3 linked regions of the Homo sapiens genome follow. The protein of the gene in region 1 interacts with the protein of each later gene in a pairwise test. Each region holds a gene or a part of one and is shown on either strand. Other genes may lie near its edges.

What was found.
Region 2: the proteins of OSGIN1 (region 1) and SORBS3 interact in binary tests that used the Homo sapiens proteins (3 or more experiments, as listed by UniProt).
Region 3: the proteins of OSGIN1 (region 1) and ARNT2 interact in binary tests that used the Homo sapiens proteins (3 or more experiments, as listed by UniProt).

Annotation. Positions count from the first base shown.
Region 1 is NC_000016.10:83,956,229-83,963,253, reverse strand, and holds part of OSGIN1 (oxidative stress-induced growth inhibitor 1), read right to left. Parts: intron 5,615-7,025; 5' UTR 5,583-5,614; coding exon 5,516-5,582; intron 3,995-5,515; coding exon 3,858-3,994; intron 2,686-3,857; coding exon 2,494-2,685; intron 2,274-2,493; coding exon 2,182-2,273; intron 1-2,181. UniProt on the Homo sapiens protein: Monooxygenase catalytic activity. Involved in regulation of cytokinesis; promotes RHOA activity, probably acting locally at the midbody in late cytokinesis.
Region 2 is NC_000008.11:22,568,918-22,575,942, forward strand, and holds the end of SORBS3 (vinexin), read left to right. Parts: intron 1-230; coding exon 231-356; intron 357-1,992; coding exon 1,993-2,304; intron 2,305-2,800; coding exon 2,801-2,904; intron 2,905-3,422; coding exon 3,423-3,529; intron 3,530-5,749; coding exon 5,750-5,811; 3' UTR 5,812-6,871; downstream 6,872-7,025. UniProt on the Homo sapiens protein: Vinexin alpha isoform promotes up-regulation of actin stress fiber formation. Vinexin beta isoform plays a role in cell spreading and enhances the activation of JNK/SAPK in response to EGF stimulation by using its third SH3 domain.
Region 3 is NC_000015.10:80,470,373-80,477,397, reverse strand, and holds part of ARNT2 (aryl hydrocarbon receptor nuclear translocator 2), read right to left. Parts: coding exon 6,967-7,025; intron 2,389-6,966; coding exon 2,175-2,388; intron 1-2,174. UniProt on the Homo sapiens protein: Transcription factor that plays a role in the development of the hypothalamo-pituitary axis, postnatal brain growth, and visual and renal function. Specifically recognizes the xenobiotic response element (XRE).

The sequences.
Region 1 (7,025 bases):
GTGCTTACAAGCGAAATGTAAGTTTCTGGCTGCCTACTAACATGTAGCTACACAAACCTGGAAGTCTTCCTGCCAAACATGCAGAAGAGTCTTCGCATCAAAGAGATAGTGAGGCCTGGAGGGGGACGCCTGGAGTGCCTGCCGTTGGGGACACAGGCCTGGTCACAGCCCTGGGGGCGGAGGAAGCAGGGCTTCCCGAGAGGCAGACTGCACCCAGGTATCTGCGCTGGGGCAGCTTCTCATTGAGTGGATGCACCCCAGGAGGAGCAGGGACTAGAACTCCTTTATTCAGTGATTGAAACTGTGAGAGGCAAATCAATCTTGGGGCCCCCAAATCACTAAGTTAAAGGAAAAGTCAAGCAGGGAACTGCCTAGGGCAAAGCTGCCTCCCGTCCTACTCAAAGTCTTCCCTCTGCCCACTGAGATAAATGCACACCTGATTGCCTCCTTTGGAAAGGCTTATAAGAAACTCGAAAGAATGCAACCGTTTGTCTCTCACCTGTCTGAGACCTGGAAACACCCCTCCCTGCTGGAGTTGTCCCGCCTCTGGACGGAACCAATGTCCATCTTACATATAGTGATTGATGTCTCAAGTCTCCCTAACGTATACAGCCAGGCTGTGCCCCGACCACCATGTGTACATGTTATCAGGACCTCCTGAGGCTGTGTCATGGTTGTGCGTCTTCAACCTTGGCAATTAAACTTCCTAAATTAGCCTGGCGTGGTGGCTCACGCCTGTAATCCCAGCACTTTGGGAGGCCGAGGTGGGCGGATCACGAGATCAGGAGATCGAGACCATCCTGGCTAACACGGTGAAACCCCGTCTCTACTAAAAATACAAAAAATAATTAGCCGGGTGTGGTGGTGGGCACCTGTAGTCCCAGCTACTCGGGAGGCTGGGGCAGGAGAATGGCTTGAACCTGGGAGGCGGAGCTTGCAGTGAGCTGAGATCGCGCCACTGCACTCCAGCCTGGGCGACAGAGGGAGACTTCATTAAAAACAAACAACAAATAAACAAACAAAACTTCCTAAATTAACTGAGACCCATCTCAAATATTCAGGGTTCACAAACCTTTTCTCTAGGGTGGCCATGATGGGGCAGGAAGCCAGATGGGGAAAAAATACCCCAGGAGTGAAAGGGCGTGGAGAAGTGTGGGTTTGGGGTGAGCTGTTTTCCTTCTGCATTTCCAATAACCTGCATGACCTTAGGTGAGTTAATTTACCCAACTTGGGGGCTCATGGTTAAGGATGAAACTCACCTGTAGCAAAAGCATTAAAAAAAAAAAAAAGAAAAGAAAAAAGAAAGTCACCCTATTAGCTGACCCAGAAAGATTGTTCTAGGCCAGGCTCAGAATAGAGGAAAGGGCTGAAGGGAGACCACAAGGACTGGGGGACCTGTGCCAGAGGCACGGGGCAGGGCGTGGGGCTCAGGGGCCAGGTGTTACCCCCTCCTTAGAGGCTGGGGCACTATGGGGAGGCCCAGTTGGGGGCCATGTGACAGGGCGGTCTGCTGCTTGCACGGGACAGGGGGTCCTCGGGTGAGCCCAGCTCTGCTGCTCACCCCCACTCATGTGGGGTGGACAAGTCCTTTCCCTATCTGAGCCTCAGTTTCCCCCTCTGGAAGAAGAGGAAGACAGACCAGATGCACTCTGAAGCCCCTGTACCTCTGGCTCACGGGCTCACTGTGGGGGGCCTGTGAAATCCCCCAAATCACTAAGCTAAAGGGAAAAGTCAAGCTGAGAACTGCTGAGGGCCACCCTGCCTCCCATTCCATTCCAAGTCACCCCTCTGCTCCCTGAGATAGATGCGTATCTGATCGCCTCATTTGGAGAGGCTCATCAGAACCTCAAAAGAATGCAACTGTTTATCTCTCACCTACCTGCGACCTGGAAGCCCCCTCCCCACTTCCTGCCTTTGCTTCAAGCTGGCCCAGCTTTCCAGACCGAACCAATGTACTTCTTACAAATATTGATTGATGTCTCATGTCTCCCTAAAATGTATAAAACCAAGCTGTGCCGGATCACCTTGGGCACATGTCATTAGGACTTCCTGAGGCTGTCACGGGCGCGTCCTCAACCTTGGAAAAATAAACTTTCTAAATTAACTGAGACCTGTCTCAGATTTTCTGGGTTCACAGGCCCAACCTTCCGTGTCCCCCAAGGCGTTCCGGGGCGGCCTCACCTTCGCTTCTTCTGCATCCAGTCCTTGACCTCCAGGTCCGGGAGCCCCATCCACTGGCCTTGGCTCAGGATCACCATGGAGCCTTCGATGGACTGCAGGGAAAGGAACCCTTTGGTCCAGGCCTCTGCTCGCCTGAACCCATTTGGGGCTAGAGGGCATGGGAGGCCTTTGCTGGGGCTGGGTAGAGGGAGGAGGGAGAGGCAGGGTTGCGGGGTGGAGAATGAGGAAAGGGAGATGCCAGAGTCCCAGCCCCAAGTGGGGAGAACGAGGGAGAGAGCCCCCCACAAGCCATGCCCTCGCTGCCCCACTCACGTGCCAGGCTCCCCCGGGGAGGTTCCGGCCCAGAACCACGTGGGGGATGGCGTGCTCCTTCCGGTGCTTCCAGGTGAGGACCGACTTCATGTTTCCCCCAAAGTCTGTGTCTGGGCGTAGAAGGGCATCAAAGAGCAGGGCCACGGGGCTTTGGGATCGGCCTTCGAGGCCTTCGGACAGGTAGTCCAGGTCCTGGAGGGGGGCATAGGTCAGAGGGGCTGCTGGAGGAGGGCGGGGTCGTCTTCCCAGAGCCTGAGGCTGGGCAGGAACGTGGGGACTGGGGCCGGGCCATTTCCCTGGCACTGGAGGGTCTCAGAGAGATGCGCACCCTGGGGGTAGTTTGAAGCTCTCGTTTTGAGGTCTTTCTAGGAGGCCAAGGGCCCCAGAGTACAGACCAAATGCGCAAGCTTGGGTGAGACTGGAGCGATTGCCTGGTCCTACATCCCTACCCTAATATCAGTGTGGTCAGATCAGCTTGGGAGGTGCTGCCTCTTAACAGCAGATAACACAGACGGGCATATTAAAGGCTCTGACAAGTCCTGCAGCCATCATTTACCTGTTTAATTTTGCCAAACCCAGTGTGTCCCTGTTTTACTGGAGTGGGGACATTTTTCTCTCTATATTATACTGAGGAACTAGTATTCTATAGAGAGCACTTTGAAAAATGCTGATCTAGATCAAATGGTCAAGACCTATTTCCTCATCTCCAACTCAGGGGCGGGAAGGGAACAGGAGGATGTACACTGCCTGACGAGGGAGGTCGACAAGGGGAGGTCGTGGAGGAGCACAGTGGAAGACAAGGGGTACGGAGGGAGGATTTGCAAACCCTTGTGGGCAGGAGGTAGTGGGACTGAAATATCTGTGGTGGAGTTTCTCAACCTTGGCCGCACTGACATTTGAGCCAGATCATTCTTTGTAGCCAGAACAAAGTCATCCAAATGTCAGTGGGGCCAAGGTTGAGAAGCTCCACCACACATATTTCAGTCTCACCACCCTCGTTGTCCTGTGCAGTGCTGGATGTTTGCCAGCATCCCTGGCCTCCACCCTGCTAGATTTGGTAGTACCGTCACCCTGCCATGACAACCCAAATTGTCTCCAGACATTGCCAGGTGCCCCCCGAGGAGAAAAATCATCCCCTCCTTGAGAACAACCGGCCTAGGGCATAGTGAGCCCTAGATCGTGTGGCATTTGTGGGTCTCTGATTTCTCTTTCACGATCTCCGTGGCTGACTTTGTGGACTCTCGAATTCTTTGTTTAGTCTTGTTTCCAGCAAACACACACTTTTGTTTTTCCCTGGGAAAGCGGCGGTAGTTTTCCAAGGGCGGGTATGTACTACCCAGAGCTCTGGCCCCAGGCTGACCCACCTGGTCCAGGATGGAGACCCCCGGGGCCTCGGTGAGCTTCCTCTGCAGCAGGGGGTGTGGGTGGATGGCATCTGGCTTCGTGTAGGGTGTGTAGCCGGAGAGCAGGTAGGACAGGCAGATACCAGAGGGGCCGTTACCTGGGGAGAGAGGGTGGAGGTTAAAGGGGGTGGCCTTTTCAGGTGGGGGACACTACTGTGGAGGGCTTTGATCTAGATGCGGCGCATTCATTCATTTATCCTTCATTCATAAAAATAAATATTTATTAAGCCCTTAGCCTGTGCCAGACACTGTGCCTAATAATACTTTTAAAAAGAAGGAATGAACAACTGCTGAGAGCTTACTCTGTGCCAGGAATTGTACTGAGAGCTTTCACAACAGCCTCACAACAGCTTTAGCGAGGTAAGTGCCACTCTTTTCCTCCTTTTATACTTGAGGAAATGGGCACAGAGAGGTTAAGTTACTTGCCTGTGGTCACACGGCCGGAAGGTAGACGAGCCGGGATTAAAACCCAGACAGAGGGAATATCTGACGACGCGACTGAGATTCTGAGATTGCTAAGAACTAGGTCAGATGGATGAGTGAATGTAGCACAGATTGCTACGTGGCCTGGGGGCGAACTTGAGTGGTGGGTGCTTGTGGGCGCTCAGGGGTGCTGAGCCGCCTGTTGGGTCTGCTGCTTGCACGTCTGAAGAACTGCGCTGCCATCTGTGGCGCTTCCTGGGCGATTCACCAGGCACAGCCCTGTGATAGCGCTTCTCTTTTTATCTGTCCTTTCCCCTCTTCTTATCTCGTCTGATTCGGAATATTACTCATATGCAGGATACCAGGAAGAACCATATGAAATCACAGGCACCCATCTGCTTTTGCCTTACAGAAATGACCATCTCACGTGGCTTAATCGGACGCCTGCATACTGGGGGGTCATCTGTCCCCATTTGTGCAGACAGAGGACAGGAATCATAAGCCGCTACTGTGTGTCCTCTCATGTGGGCACCTAGCACAGTGCTGGGCACAGGGTAGTCATGGGATCAGTGTGGGCTCAGGACCAGGCCTCCCTGCGCCACGCCGGGTCGCCTCCAGCTGATGGGTGTGTTCTAGACCCCTGGGTTCTCGGAAGTGTGAAAGGGAATGATAGCTTATAAACTGCTAAGCCTAGCACTGGCCACATAGTAAACGCTCAATGGCTTAATTTAAAGACCACTGTAAAGAGGCCAGGCCTGGGCCAGGCATGGTGGTTCACACCTATAATCCCAGCACTTTGGGAGGCTGAGGCAGGCAGATCACTTGAGGTCAGGAGTTCGAGACCAGCCTGGCCGACATGGCGAAACCCCATCTCTACTAAAAATACAAAAGTTAGCTGGGCATGGTGGCATGCACCTGTAATCCCAGCTACTTGGTAGGCTGAAGCAGGAGAATCGCTTGAGCCCGGGAGGGAGAGGTTGCAGTGAACCAAGATTGCACTACTGCACTCCAGCCTGGGCGACAGAGTGAGACTTTGTCTCAAATAAATAAATAAATAAATAAATAAATAAATAAAAAATAAACCCCAAAAACGAAAAAAGACACCAGGCCTGGACTTGCCCAGCTCCTGCCCTCAGACCTGGGGGGTACCCGGAAGGCTCAGCGGAGCCCCTCCCTGGCTGGGGCCTGACACTCACCCACAATGATGACCGGGAGGGGCTCTGAGCTGCTGGCGCCGAGGTGGTCCTTTCTGGAGGAGCTCATGGCTGGTGGGGGGCTTGGGGCTGGCAGCGGACCTGGAGTGGGGGAGAGGGGAAGGAAGAGTCCATTCGGGTGAGGCCTGGGTGTCCACACAGCCACTTCACCTCCCAGCTAGGGTGGCCTCCTGTGGCCCTCAGGGTCTGGTCCGGGGTCCCCATGAGACATATCTGACGGGACTCCCTTCTTGCTCTCACACAGCCTCTGCTCCAAACAGGCTGTTTGCCCCACCCCTCCCCAGTCATGCAGAATGTGCCCTCCCCTCCTCGGGCCTGGTTGCCCCAGGCAGCCACTGTCCCTCCGAGCCTCACTCTACTCTCCCATCTCACTGGGGCAGTAACAGTCCCCGAAACTCATTATCTGTCTTCCCGAGAGGCCATTCCTGCCCAACCCAGGAACCAGCCCTGCCAGACCCTTCTGTGGGCCACAGTCCTCGAGTCCCAGTGTGGCCTGGTGGACTCGTCATCCAGCCCTGGCACGTTGCTTCCTATCCCATTCCCGGGCCTCTCTGGGTCTCAGTTTCCTCATCTGTAAAATGGAAGCAATGAGTCCCTACCTCCTAGGGTGGTTGAGGGACACAGTAGGATCACAGACGGGAAGCACCTGCCTGGAGTGAATCTGCCACAGGGAATGGGCCAGCGCTGTGGCCTGCCCCAGGAGCTGGGATGGACTTGGGGAAATGGAAGCAGTGGCCAGGTTTGGGGACGTGCTGGTGAACCTGCCATCTCTGGGGCAGCCGCGCCCTCTGCTGGCCGCAGGCCCAAATCGCTCAAAGGGACCCAAGTGCTGGTCCTAGAGCTGCCGGTTCCCAGAGGAGCATCAGACCTACCTTCTTCCCCACACCAGCTAGCAGCGGACACCAGCCTCACCCGAGGGCCACATGCTGCCATCCTGAGGACCACAAGGCAACACCCTTGTGGGCACAGGGATGATGAGCATTTGGCACTTACTGTGTACCGGGTATTTGACATGCTTTTTCTCATATCCGCCTCACGCTGACCCTGTGCAGCCCTGGCCATATTAATGTCCCATTTCACAGATGTGTAAACGGGGCTCAGAGAGGTCGCACAAACTTCTCAGTGTCACACAGCTGGCTTTGAAACCCAGGGCTCACTGGTGCCAAGACCCTGCCAGTGCCACCACCCACACCACTCGGCCTGTCCCTCGAGATCCAGGGCCCATCCAGGTGTCACACTCAAGTGGGCGGGCACAGGGCTTGGACCACCCAGAGTGGCCAGGGGTGGGGGCCCAGGGCCACCTGCCTCCAGAATTCTTCCAGAGAAAGTGGGAATCTGGATTTCTATGTGAATGATCTGAGTTGAAGAAGTGGGCAATGAATGAACGCAGAGTTTTGGAAGATGCTTAAAAGGCCAACCAAACACAGCTGAGACCAGTGTGTGGCCTCTGATGTGTGCAGGGTGACAGAAACACCTTCGTCCACCTCCAGGC
Region 2 (7,025 bases), on another chromosome or scaffold:
TATCCCTATGGAAAATTCTTCTTCCAGGGAGCGTTCCCAGACTCCTCCCCATCCTCCAGCACCCTTTGGCTGTGCCCACCCGTGGCTGCCCCCAGGGCTTGTGTCTGGTGTTTATATCTTTTCTCTGCCTAGGGGCGGGCCCACCTTCTCTTTGCTGTCTCACAGGAACCCCCAGCCTGTGCTATGTTGATGCCCAGGCCAAATCTTTCTCATGACCTTTCTTCATGCAGGTGCTGCCCGCAGATGAGATCCCTAAGCCCATCAAGCCCCCGACCTACCAGGTGCTGGAGTATGGAGAGGCTGTGGCCCAGTACACCTTCAAGGGGGACCTGGAGGTGGAGCTGTCCTTCCGCAAGGTGGGCCAGGCCGGAGACGGAGGGGTGGGTGGGGGCAGGTGAAGATGTAGGTAAATATGTGCACTAAAAACAGTTTTTTTTTTTTGAGACAGAGTCTCACTCTATCGCCAGGCTGTAGCGCAGTGGTGCCATCTCGGCTCACTGCAACCTCCGCCTCCCGGGTTCAAGCAATTCTCCTGCCTCAGCTTCCCGAGTAGCTGGGACTACAGGCACGCGCCACAACACCCAGCTAATTTTTGTATTTTTAGTAGAGACAGGGTTTCACGATGTTGGCCAGGATGGTCTCAGTCTCTTGACCTCATAATCCACCCGCCTCAGCCTCCTAAAGTGTTGGGATTACAGGCGTGAGCCACCGCGCCTGGCCTAAAAACACTTCTTTAAAAAAGAGTCCGATGTACCTAGCTTCACCCAGGATTTCAAAGTTTTCCCCAGTCTCTTTCATTATGCTTCCTTTAGTGTAGTGGCTTTTTTTTGCTTTTTTTTGAGACAGCATCTCACTATGTTGCCCGGGCTGACCTTGAACTCCTGGGCTCAAGCGATCCCCTGTCCCTGCCCCAGCCTCCCAAGTAATTTTGGTCCATTTTTAAAAGATCATCATAAACTTCTAGAGTTACATATATATTTTTTCAACTGCAGGTTGCAGGGGATCATACTCAGCATTTTTAAAGGTATAGACAGAAATGTTAGCATGCGTTGCGAGCAGAAAGCACTTTATCATACCGTAGGCAGTTCTGTGTATGCACATATATATGTATTCTGGGCTGTTATTAAAACATTTTTAACTGTAGATTGTGGTGAAACAAGTTTGAAAAATGCTGTTCTAGAAAGCAGGGAAGTGGTCTGCCTTTGGTTGATTTTGGGAGCAGTGATCATGCTCCCAAAATAAGCGAAAGACGGCCCATAGTGAATGCCTCCCAGAAGAGCTGGCCCCAGGGACAGAGGGGGAAGAAGGTGGCTGGATGGAGACAGATGGGGGCAGGAGAGGACAGGGGAAGGCAAGGGCTGGAGGCCACCCTCCCAGGGGGTGGTTCTACCTAATGTCAGCCAGCCTGTGGCCTTCAGGACTCCCTGCCTGTCCTGGGGAGTGTGTTTTTGACACGCTCATGACAAGGTCCCCCAGCGTGAGGCAGGAACAGGACCCAGGCAGGGCAGTAGTGGTAGCACCTGTCCAGTGTGTCTAAGGAGTGGACTGTTGATCTCGTTCACACCTCATAGTGACAGTATGGTTATTTTCACTTAACATAGGAGAAAACAAGGCTCAGAGAGACAGAGCAGGCTGCCTGAGGCCACACAGCTTGGCCTGGTGGAGCTGGGTTTGGATCTGTATTATTAGCCACGGGCTCACCTGTGATCGGAGCTCTGGGGAGGGACCTTGCTATGAACGCCGAAGGGGGATGCACACCCGTTGAGCTTCCAAGAGGCAGGACCCAGTCTCAGCCTCAGCCTTGCCTGGGCAGCCTGGGCTTGGCTCCTGGCTCCTGCTCTTACCGTGTGACTCGGGTAAACTGCTGGCCCCCTGCGATTCCGACCCCTCGTGTGTCCAAGGTGTTAGGGTTGAATGAGACAGCCCAGATAAGGCACCCGTGGGTCCATGGCACCAGGAAGGCCCCACAGACACTGACTTTTCCCCCCTCAGGGAGAGCACATCTGCCTGATCCGCAAGGTGAACGAGAACTGGTACGAGGGACGCATCACGGGCACGGGGCGCCAAGGCATATTCCCTGCCAGCTACGTGCAGGTGTCTCGTGAACCCCGGCTCCGGCTCTGTGACGACGGCCCCCAGCTCCCCACGTCTCCCCGCCTGACCGCTGCCGCCCGCTCAGCCCGTCACCCCAGCTCCCCCTCAGCCCTGCGCAGCCCAGCTGACCCCATCGACTTGGGGGGACAGACCTCCCCCCGTCGCACTGGCTTCTCCTTCCCCACCCAGGAGCCTAGACCCCAGACCCAGGTGAGGTAGCCTGCCTCCACCAGAGAGTCGACCTCCTCCTCACCCCTCATCCCCCACCCCCGTGACTTGTCCACACTTGGGACTCCTTCCCAGACAGCCCTGGGACATAGGAGTGGGGTGACAGGGCAGAAGCTAGTATGGCAGCCCCACCCTGGCCTGGGGGACCTCAACCTACCGAGCTCTAGCCGAGGGAGCTCTAGATGGAATCCCAAAGCCGGCCCAGGCTCCTGACCCTGGGTGTTCTTGGTTCATCCATGCTGGCGTCCAGAAACCCAGGCACTGACCTTACTTGGGCCTCAGTTTTCTGGCCCCTGTGAAATGAAATAGTCACAGCAGGTGTCCCTGTGCCCTGGGGGTTTGGAGGCTAAGATGAAGCCGTTTGTAAGGCGTGCTGGCAGGTGGACTGGGAACGCCCATTTTGGGCCTCCTCCCTCAGGCTTACATGTACCCATCGTCTTCCTCCCTCTGACATCCCTTTCTTCCTGTCAACTCCCAGAATCTTGGCACCCCTGGTCCAGCTCTGTCCCACTCTCGAGGTCCCAGCCATCCCCTGGACCTGGGGACCTCCTCTCCTAACACCTCTCAGATACACTGGACCCCGTGAGTACCATCTGAGGGCTCTTGATCAGACGTGGGGGGGGTCACTGGCAGGCAATGCCCCATATTCCACCCTCCCCCAAGTCCCCACCTGTGGATTTGGGAAACTTCTACCAGGTAGCCCTTGTCCTCGAAGAGCTTATGGTGATTTGGGGCAGGGAGGAGGCGCTGGTCTGTGATGTTCCCAATCCCTCCTGGCAGCTATGTGGCCTTGTGGCCTTGGTCTCCTCATTGGGTTTCTAGCCCTGAGGTCGGTGCATGTATAATTGAAGTGTGGAACTGGTGGAATGGACAGGAAGGCACCAGGTGCTCAGAGGAGGCGAGGGTTCAGTGCTTAGGGCCCAGAGGGCAGGAGGCAGGCCTGGGAAAGACTACGGTGAGCACAGGCTGAGTTGCTCTGAGGAGCTGGATCAGGGGCTAGTGAGAGCATGAAGGGACCCTGGGGCATTCACAGGAAGCGGCAACACTTGGGTTAGAGCCTCTGGGCCCATTCTCTGGTTGCCATGATACGCTTCTCGCAGGTACCGGGCGATGTACCAGTACAGGCCCCAGAACGAAGACGAGCTGGAGCTGCGCGAGGGGGACAGGGTGGATGTCATGCAGCAGTGTGACGATGGCTGGTTTGTGGGTATGTGGGCAGGCCGGGAGGGGGCATCTCAGGGCCCCAGGGGATGTGGGTGGGGTGCTGTTGCCTGCCAGTGCTGCTTCAGCAAAGATTCATGGCCGACCACCCCCCGACTCAGCTTCCGGCCGGGCTACTGGGGGGGCCTGGCACCCGATGCTTCCCCAAAGCCAGCCCTTCTGTTGGCTGCCTTCCTTCATGAAGAGGCCAAGGCCCAGGAGGAAACTGGCACCAGTCCAGGGTCACTGATGGAGTCAGTGGGGACCCAGGCCAGGGTTCCCAACGTCCAGAGCTCTGCCTCTTCCTCCTGCACACCCCTGCCTCGAGCAGCCCTGGGGGAGAGCTCCTGGTGGAAAGGACCAGGGCTCACACTTGACCTAGCTGGCTCCTCCAGCCTGGGAGGAAGAGGGAATGGAGAAAGGTCCCAGCCCCTCAGGGCTGGCCCAAGGGCAGCTCTGACCAAGGACAAATGCAGGAAGCCTCAGGTTGGCCTCAGCCTGAATCAAGGTGACCAACCCACCAGGCTTCACATGGCCTCTTTCCCCAGAGTGGGCGGGCCCTGTGCAGGTCTCATCTTCAAAGGATGGGCCGTCCCCAGAGAGAAGAGAGTGGCCAGAAGCCCCCTGCCCTGCCCCAAGCAGGCTTTGAAGCCTGAGGAGTTGGGGGGCTGCTTGGGCAGCCCCTTGACCTGGCAGCCCACCCTTCCTGATCTGATCCCAGTACAGCTGCCAGCCAGCTGTACTGACCCACCCAGGACCATTAAGCACTAGCCTGTGAATGGCCCCTACCTTCTAGTGGGGGAGGGAGGGAGGCGGTGCTTGGAGATGCATTCAAATTTACTGGATACACTTTTGCTTTGGAATTTTTTTACAACTACTAATAAAGTTTTGCAAACCTATGCAGACAAGAAGAAAAAGTACCACTTTTGTATTAGGAGCCACAAGCGCTTTGAGAGGAATGGGCGAGACCTGTGCCCTTTCCGGTATGGCAGCCACCGGCGGCATTCAGCTGTTGAAATGTAGCTCAAATGAAATAAATTAAAAATCCAGTTCCTCAGTTGCACAGGCACATCTCAAGTGCCCAACAGCCACAGGTGGCGAGTGGTGCCCATTTTAGTTAGTGCAGGTCAGGGAAGGCTTCCTGGAGGAAATGAGGGAGCTGGGCCTGGAAGGGCAGGGGAAGGATTTGGGGAGGCCAAGAGGAAAGGGAGGTACTCGGGGCAGAGGACGAGGGTGGGGGTGGGACGAGCACGGGCTGCCCCCAAGGAAGTCAGGGTGCCAGCCTGGAAGGGGAGGCCCAGGATCATCCATTCACCCAAGGTCAGGAGTGACGTTCATTTCAGTTTATATTCCTATTTTTCTATATATAGGAATATAATAATATTTATTACATTTCTGTATTTCTATATTTCTCCATTCCCTCTTCCTCCCAGGCTGGAGGAACCAGCTGGGGGGTGTGGGGATACACAGGTGTGAGCCCTGGTCCTTTCCACCAGGCGCTCTCCCCAAGGGCTGCTCCAGAGGCAGGGGTGTGCAGGGAAAAGGGGCAGGGCTCTGAAGGTCGGCAACCCCGGCCTGGGTCCCCAGTGACTCCATCAGTGACCCTGGGGTGGTGCCAGTTTCCTCCAGGGCGTCCTTCTCTTCATGGCACGAAGGAAAGCAGCCAACAGAAGTGCTGGCTTTGGGGAAGCATCGGGTGCCAGGCCCCCCAGATGCTTTGCCCGCTGGGGTTCCCCCCCCTCCTCCTCTTCAAGACACGAGTTTCTGTGGGGCTGAGAGGCCTGGATCGGAGTCCCAAGCTTACTCCTAAGCGTCGGGGTGCTCTCGGGCAATGCATTCAGCCTTCCCATAGGCCTTCCCACCCATCTCTAAGTGAGGGTGCCCTATTAGACCAGGGACGTTTCTCCCGATTTCAGTTCTGTGATTCCTCCTCCTGTGTCCCCACTTTGCGGAGGAGGGGGGGAGTGACTCTGCTGTGTACAGTGTGATGCACATTTGTTGATTGCTCAGATTCTTTGGTGGTTGAGTGTGGGAAGTGTAGCTTTGCCCATCTAAGCTTCTGCCGCTAGGGGGCAGGAAGGAGGAGAGCAAATCCAATTCCCTCTCTGGGCTCCCCTACAGAACTCCCCTACAGTTCTGGGCACTGCCGGCAGGGGGCAGGCCCTCACCCCTGCATCCCTGTTAAAGAAGGGAGTGGGGAAAGCTCTTCCTGCCTTTCCTCTTTCAGGTGTCTCCCGGAGGACCCAGAAATTCGGAACGTTCCCTGGAAATTACGTTGCCCCGGTGTGAGTGGTCTCCATGGCAACTTGGAGCCAGCCAGGATGGGGTGGGGAGCGGTGGCACTCGTGGGAGGGAGAGGACCCCCGCCCACATCCTCCTTCCCCAGGACCTGAGCTCCCAGCATCTGCAGACGACCCCCGCAGCCTTTCCCTCGGACCCCCCTCGAAGCCCCCTGGACTGATTCCCACCCACGACTCACAGGCATTCCTCCCACAGCCCTTTCATTTCCTCCCCACCCCACTCCCCAAATACAGAGGTCTGCTTTGAAGCGGAGACCATTTCCAGGCCTTATTGAGACCAGACCCCAAGTCCCCCACCCCCATCCTGCTCCAGCGTTTCCTCTAACAGGGACCAGCTCTCCGCTTTGCCCCCACGGGGTTCCTCTAACCAGAACCAGCTTCCTAGCCTCGTAGAGACCAAAGGCCGCCCCCGCCTGCTGGGGTTCCTCCCAGCACCCCAGCTTGCTGGCTGCCCTCTTTGCCTTCTGGCCTCCAGCTGGGTGTGGGGGGGCGGAGCAAGGCGGGGGACAGACGCAGCACCTTCTTAGCGATCTAGGCCTGGCAAGAGCTCTGGCCCCAAGGCCTCCTCTTCCCAGGGGCTGCCAAGTCCTGGCCCTGGCCCTGGCATATCACCCCGCACTGTGGGGCCAGGCACCACTAGCCTGGCTCAAATATTCCCCAGGGAGACTGCTGTGTGCTGCCCGCCTGCCTGCTGGCTCTCCCCCAGCCCCACATCCCCTCTGGAAGAGAATGTAAAATAAACCTGGACACAAGGGACCTTGTCTCTGCGGCCTTTTCCTTGGGGTAGGGGATGCCTCCTCCTGTCTAGGAGATGGGAATTCCTTCTGTGGAGGGCTGTGCTGGGAGACAGGTGGGACAGGTGTGTGTGTAAGAGGAGGAGGATGGAAAAACACCATTATTACCTCCAAAGATCTCTGCCCTTGGGTGTCAGGCAGGTTGCGGCAGCCCCCACAATTGGGCAGCTGTGTGGCAAGAAGTGCTGGGAGAATGAACAGTGCCAGGCCCTGGTAGCAGGGAGACACCAGAGATGGGGGACTGAATGTGGCCTTGTTTGCAGACTGTTTTGATTCTGGAGCTGCCACCGTGGGGTTGCTGGGCTAGATGACATTTCTAACTATTCTGCTGTTTTCCTTCTGTGTGCTCTGTTTCCACACCGAAGCCCTTGTGTGTGTGTGTGTGTGTGTGTGTGTGTGTTTATTCTCC
Region 3 (7,025 bases), on another chromosome or scaffold:
TTATAAAACAGATCCCAGATAGATAGCTAGTCCCTTCCACCATGTGAGGACACAGCTAGAAGGCAACATCTAGAAAGTAGGCCCTTGCCAGACATCAAGGTGCCTTGATCTTGGACTTCCCAGCCTCTAGAACTCTGACTGTATTAGTCTGTTCTCCCATTGTATAAACAAATACCTGAGACTGGGTAATTCACAAAGAAAAGAGGTTTAATTGGCTCACCATTCTGCAGGCTGTACAAAAAGCATGATGCTGATATCTGCTTGGCCTCTGAGGAGGCCTCAGGAAACTTACAATCATGGCGGAAGGTGAAGGGAAGCAGGTGTCTTACATGGCAGAAGCAGGAACTCTTAAGAGAGAGAGTGGGAAGGTACTACACACAACCAGATCTTGTGAGAACTCACTCACTATCACGAGAGCAGGACCAAGAGGATGGTACTAAACCATTCAGGCGAACCCACCCCCATGATCCAATCACCTCCCATCAGGGCCTGCCCCCAACATTGGGAATTACAATTGAACATGACATTTGGGTGAGGACACAGATCTAAACCATATCAGTGAGAAATGAATTTCTGTTACATAAAAGCTATTCGGTTTATTGTATTTTGTTATAGCAGCCCAAATGGATTAGGACACTGAATGCCCAGCCTCCAGAACTATGAGAAAATACATTTCTGTTATTTAAGTAACCCATTCTGTGGTATTTTGTTATGGCATCCTAGGCTGACCACAATAAACAACACACTCACTAATTCATCAGGCTTCTGCTGAAGGCCTACTATGGGCAAAGCACTGAGTTTAGCACTGTGGGCAGACACAAAAGCAAGTGGGAATACAACAGCTCACAATATGGTCAGGGAGAATGACAACACAAATATATCTGTCATAGAGCAGAATGCAAATATTTTGGTATAATGCTTCTATAACTCTTGTTTCAACAATGCAAATTTGTTCCAATGTGATTGACATATTAAGGAACAATCTGAGCATAATGTGAATGTTGTGTTTGCTTATCTGTAAGAAAAACTAGATGAACATAGAAAGGTTGTGCCTAGCTGAACCGGGCCACACGGAAATACACAAAATTCACATACCTCAGACATCAGTCAGCTCTCTCGGCCCACGGTGTGTTATTAGCCACACTCATCCACATTTGGAGTTAAAACTCTCCGTCTGATTTCACATGACTGTCCTCCTACCATTTCGCAATAACATACAAATGACCACACCTTCTGAGACCACCTCTTAAGCAAACTTTAGGTCATTTTCAAACTCAACTGCCATATGTGTGGTAAGATGTATACATTTCTTAACCACTTAATGTTAAAGCTGTGCTACCATTTATAATAGGTTTTTATTTTTGCTTTTATCTGACAAATTATTGAGTGTTGTTCTTCTAAACCACTTTTTCTCGATAAGCCCTATAGTTTTGAATTGCATGATTGTGTATACTGCAGTGATTTTTAGAAACATGTATGAGTAGAATTGACTATATTTAAACATTTCAATAAGGAACTAGATTTCAGGTAACTAAGGCCTGGGTAATGAATGTTTATGGTCAGGATCACAGAAAATCACATGCTTATTGGATAAACTTCAAACAGGGCATATGGATCTGGCTAATATATCAACGACAACCTCTAGTGGTAATGTATACTAATTGCAGGTAAAATACAGAAAAATGTGATGTAGTAAAAATGGATTTTTAAATGTTATCGAATGAATGAAGCTATCACACAGGCCAACTCACATATATTCCCTCACCTTTAGGCAGCTTTTTATGGCCTCCAGTTTCCTGGCCTGTTTACTAAAATAATTTTTTTTTTTTTTTTTTTTTGAGACAGAGTCTCACTCTGTCACCCAGGCTGGAGTGTAGTGGCACAATCTTGGCTCACTGCAAGCTCTGCCTCCCAGGTTCATGCCATTCTCCCACCTCAGCCTCCGGAGTAGCTGGGACCACAGGCGCCCACCACCACGCCTGGCAAATTTTTTGTTTTTGTATTTTTTGTAGAGACGGGGTTTCACCATGTTAGCCAGGATGGTCTTGATCTCCTGACCTCGTGATCCACCCGCCTCAGCCTCCCAAAGTACTGGGATTACAGGCGTGAGCCACCATGCCCAGCCAAGAATGTTTTCTAGAGTCAAACAGCCTCATAAAGGGAGCTCCACTGACCTGTCATTGAGTTTTCTGAGGTGCACAGTTGCTCTCTCAGCTTCTCCACGTCATCAGGATGCACCTGTTCATACAGTGTGCTCCCAAACCACTCTGACTGGGGCTGGTTCAGAACAGGGGTGACGGAGTCAGACACATAAATCACTCGCCCTGTCTCAGCAGCCACCACAAACAGAAATCCATCAGCTGCTTCAAGGATGAGATGCTTCAGTTCCTATAAAGAAAAGATTATGATTGGCACAATACACTGACAGACCCAGGATGATTCAACTTTCTTATTGGGAAAGCAGCCTTCAATTTCCTTTATCTGCATATTTATTCTGGTACACAAATAGTTTGGGAAATGAGAACTTTGTTTCTGGAAAATAAGCTAGAAAAATGCACAAAGCTTGCACCATCCCTACGATACAGCTACTGTAAACACGGTTAGCCCATCTTCATTAGTCCTTTGTTGGGGAGAGAAAATTTCCAGCCTAGGGGGATGGGAGAGCAATGAGTGATCACCAGAAGGTACTGGGTTGCCAGAGGCGTGAACAGCTTTGCCACATATTGAAACTGTAGTCATGTCATTGGAGCAGAAGGGCCCAACACATAGTGCTTGGCACAAAAGGTGCTAGATAGAAGGAAGGGAAGGGGAAGGGGAAGGTGAGAAGGGAGAACGAAAGAGACCACGTGTCTCCCCACCCACAGCTTGCCGTACTGAAAGTACCCTCTTGTTCCTTTTCTCTTTCCATATTTCTGAGCTGAATGCTGGCACTGGCTATAAGAGTATCCCCTTACATTTGCATTTCTGTCAGATTTCCAGAACTGACAATAATCACCATCATCTCAAAAGACTCTCAGAGTAACTCTGGGAGGCAGCAGGGAATACAGCATTATCCATATCACTTTACAGTGAGAAGAGGATAGGAGCATCAACCTTCAGCTCACATTGATTCATTGGGGTCATGACTGTCATTGAAGGCAGGGAGGAAACTGGGATCAAGGAAGGGGCAGCAGGAAGCCTTGATATTATCCTCAGAAGGACGTGGATGGGGCAAAATTAACTTTGTTAAAACAAGATGTCTTTTCTTTGCAGCGCCTGAAGGCAGCTCAAGTATAGTTGCCCATACTATTCTCACATCAAGCTAAGGAGCCCTTTGCCACTGAATGAAATGGGCTTTGTGCCTGCAGGAGCCAGGCACTAAGTCTTCCCTAGACACTGTAATCCATGGCCACCCTTCCAACCACTTCAAGTACTGTTCAGGCTCCAGAGGACAAAGGTATCCTTCTAGGTCAGCAGCTAGCAAACATCTTTTGGCTGGCAATCTTTTGTTTGAATGTAATCTTATGTGAAAACCCCACTGTAAAGCACATGGACAGCCAGCAGAGTGAAGGCAAAAGGTGGAGAGTCTGGCGCCCCAAATCCCAGTAACTGAGCAGGGTACAAGGACCCAGAGACTAGGGAACATTGATATGCTGATGAGCAGAACCCAGGGAGCTTTGTAAATGTGTCTAAGCCCTTGGCTGGGGAGGAATTCTAACATCCTCTGCCTGGGAAACCAGGGCAGAAGCAGTTGGTACAAGCATTTTTTAAGGATAAGTTTATTTTGCCCATTTCTCTTGCTTTGCACTTTTGCTGTTCTGCGTCACCTAGATGCTTAATTAGTTCAGGGAATTCGGTCAGCATTTTTATTTTCAGTTTTTGGATGATCTTCCCAACAGAAAGAGCTGTTAAGAGAATTAAAAACGGAAGAGGGTGCCTGGGGAAGTACAGAATTCTTTGTCACTGGAGGAGAGGAAGTGGAGACTGAATGACTTTACTCATGAATTCACATTTTTGTCCAGTTTGCAAAGACTGTGGGGAGGTCTTATGGGATGAAGCCCTGCTCGCATCACGGACCCTCTTTTTTCCACCCTCCTCCCTGATGTGTATTCCCTGGGAGACCATCTATCACTACCAAGTTCCTGTGCCCTGATCCAGAACCAGCCTCTACACTCCAAGAAAACAGTCACGGTTAAGAGCATGTATTCTGGAGTAAAAGGAGACTATCACCTACCGCTCTCCCACTTAGCTGTGCAACTTTGGGCATGTTACTTCACGCCCTCAGCAATGTTTTTCAGTGAGCTCTTGCAAGGTTAAATGAGATGCTGTGTGTGAGGACTTAGTAAGGGCCTGGCACACAGTAGGTGCTCCATAAATGTAACCATTATCATCACCATCCAAGCAGCTGAGAGAGGAACAAAGGTAGGGCTCATCTGACCTGCATAGCTGCCTTCTCTCTTCACGCCACTTTCATAATCCTCAGTCACTTAAAGATAACGAGATTCATTTCAAACCTTGACTCTGTAGGTCTTTTGGTGAGGATTAAAAAAATATAGACAAAAAACTGATTCTAGCAGCCAGTAGTGCTCAATAATTTCTGTCTGTTACTTACCAGCTATTTACCCTTCATTATACCTCAGGCCCATGTTAAACAGTCTATGCTTGTTGCCTTCCTCACCACAACCACACGAGCTGGGAGCTATCACTGCATTTATTTTTACAGAGGTGGAAATGAGGCTTGAAGCTCCTGCCCTGACCACCACAGTTTGTGTCCTCCAAGTGGCACATATTACCACTGCTGGACCTTCCTAACATCTGCCAAGCGAGGGCTCCCATGACCACTGGGATGATTTAGAAAGGGATCAAATAGGTGAAGTGCTTGCTAAAGTGTCTGCCACAGAACAGACAGTAATAAACGTTAGTTCCTCATCCCTTATTCTTTTTAAACCTAACTTCCATGACATAAATCGAGTCTCGGCTCTAGCAGAATAAATCATTAGGTCTCCCAACAAAATCTTTTTCATTCCTGCCTGTGAGGTTCTGTACACACTCTTCCCTTTTTGTGAAATCCCTTCTGCTCCCCTCTTTCTAGGTATTTTTTGTGGCTCCTTTCTATGCCAATACTGTCTCTGTCCTGAGAAGTCCCTCTTGATAATACCAGGACACTTCCACTCTATTTCAGCTTGGCCACACGCTGTGTCTTGTTAAATCCTCCATTACTTTTAGGACCCTATACCCTACATACTTTTGCATTTCCTAACTGCATGCCCTGACAACTGTATTATTTCACCTCCCCACCCCAATGCCCCCCCACCGGCTATACACAATGAAGTGCTTTCAAATCCATCACCTCATTTATCCTGCAAAAGCTCTTGGAGACAGGAAAGCAAAAAGCTTTATGTTCATTTCACAGATGAGCACACTGAAGCTTAGAGTATTTGCCAACTTGCCCTATGACCAGCACATGGAAATACAAAGACCCTGAACACAGGCCTCTGGCTCATGTAAAGCCACTTATAAAATACGACCTCACTAGCCATTTTGTGCGTTTCTTCTTGCCAACTAGTCAAAGACTAGTGTAGGTGTTAAAAATATGGCTTTGGGGTCCTACCAGCCTGTCTTCACTGGACCCAATCTTGGCTCCTCCACTAAGCAGCAGATTAACCCTGAGCAATCTGCTGACTCTAAGCCTCAGCTTCCTCATCAATAAAACAGAGCTAAATAACAGTGGCTTCTTCACAGGGCTAGAATAAGTAGTAAATGAGATATTTCACAGAAAACTATGACTCACACCAGGCACCCAGCAAATGCCGGCCGGCTAAGTGCTCTGATCGCGGCTACTATTATCACTACTGCTGCCATCACTGTCTTTTTTCTTTAACTTTTTTCAGGGGTACACATGCAGGTTTGTTACGTACTGCCAAGGGAGTAAACTCATGTCACGAAAATTTGTTATACAAATTATTTCATCACCCAGATCCTAAGCCCAGTACCCATTAGTTATTTTTTCTGATCCTCTCCCTCCTCCCAACCTCCATCCTCTAGGAGGCTCCAATGTCTGTTGTTCCCCTCTTTGTGTCCATGTGTTCTCATCATTCAGCCCCCACTTACAAGTGGGAACATGTGGTATTTGGTTTTCTGTTCCTGCATTAGTTTGCTAAGGATAGTGGCCTCCAGCTCCATCCATGTTCCTGCAAAGGACATGATCTCATTCTTTTATATGGCTGTGTAGTATTCTATGGTGTATATGTACCACATTATCTTTATCCAATCTGTCATTGATGAACATTTATGTTGAGTCCATGTCTTTGCTATTGTGAATAGTGCTGCAATGAACATACGTAAGCATATGTCTTTATGTAGAACGATTTATATTCCCTTGGGTATAAACCCAGTAATGGGGTTGCTGGGTCAAATGGTATTTCCGTTTTTAGCTCTTTGAGGAACCTCCACACTGCTTTCTACAATGGTTGAGCTAGTTTACACTCCCACCAGCAGTGTATAAGTGTTCCCTTTTCTCTGCAACCTCACTAGCATCTGTTACTTTTTGACTTTTTAGTAATAGCCATTCTGACTGGAGTGAGATGGTATCTCATAGTGGTTTTGATTTGCACTTCTCTAATGATCAGTGATGTGGAGATTTTTTCATATACCATCACTTTCATAGGCTGATCATATCAGCACAATTCCAGCATACAGCGTTTTTACTAACTTCTTCCTGTGTCAGTGTGCTGAGCACGATGTTCAAATGCTCAATATATTTTTTTGAGTGACATCCCATTAAGGTTATGGGAAACATAAAAGCAGAAGACCCAAAGATCAGACAAACCCTCTTTTGAAGACAGCTTCTTGGAGAAAAATGGAAACAAAACATGTTGGCTTCATTCCTTCCTCAACCTTGAGCCCTGGTTCCCCACGTAGTTTATTTCGTCTTGGTGACGCTGGGATTCCCCCCGCTTTCCAATGGTGATGTGATGACCAGGGTACCTGCTCTGTGAGGAAGGAAGGCTTGTACGCGCCATCGGTGGACTTGTTCCCTGTACCCC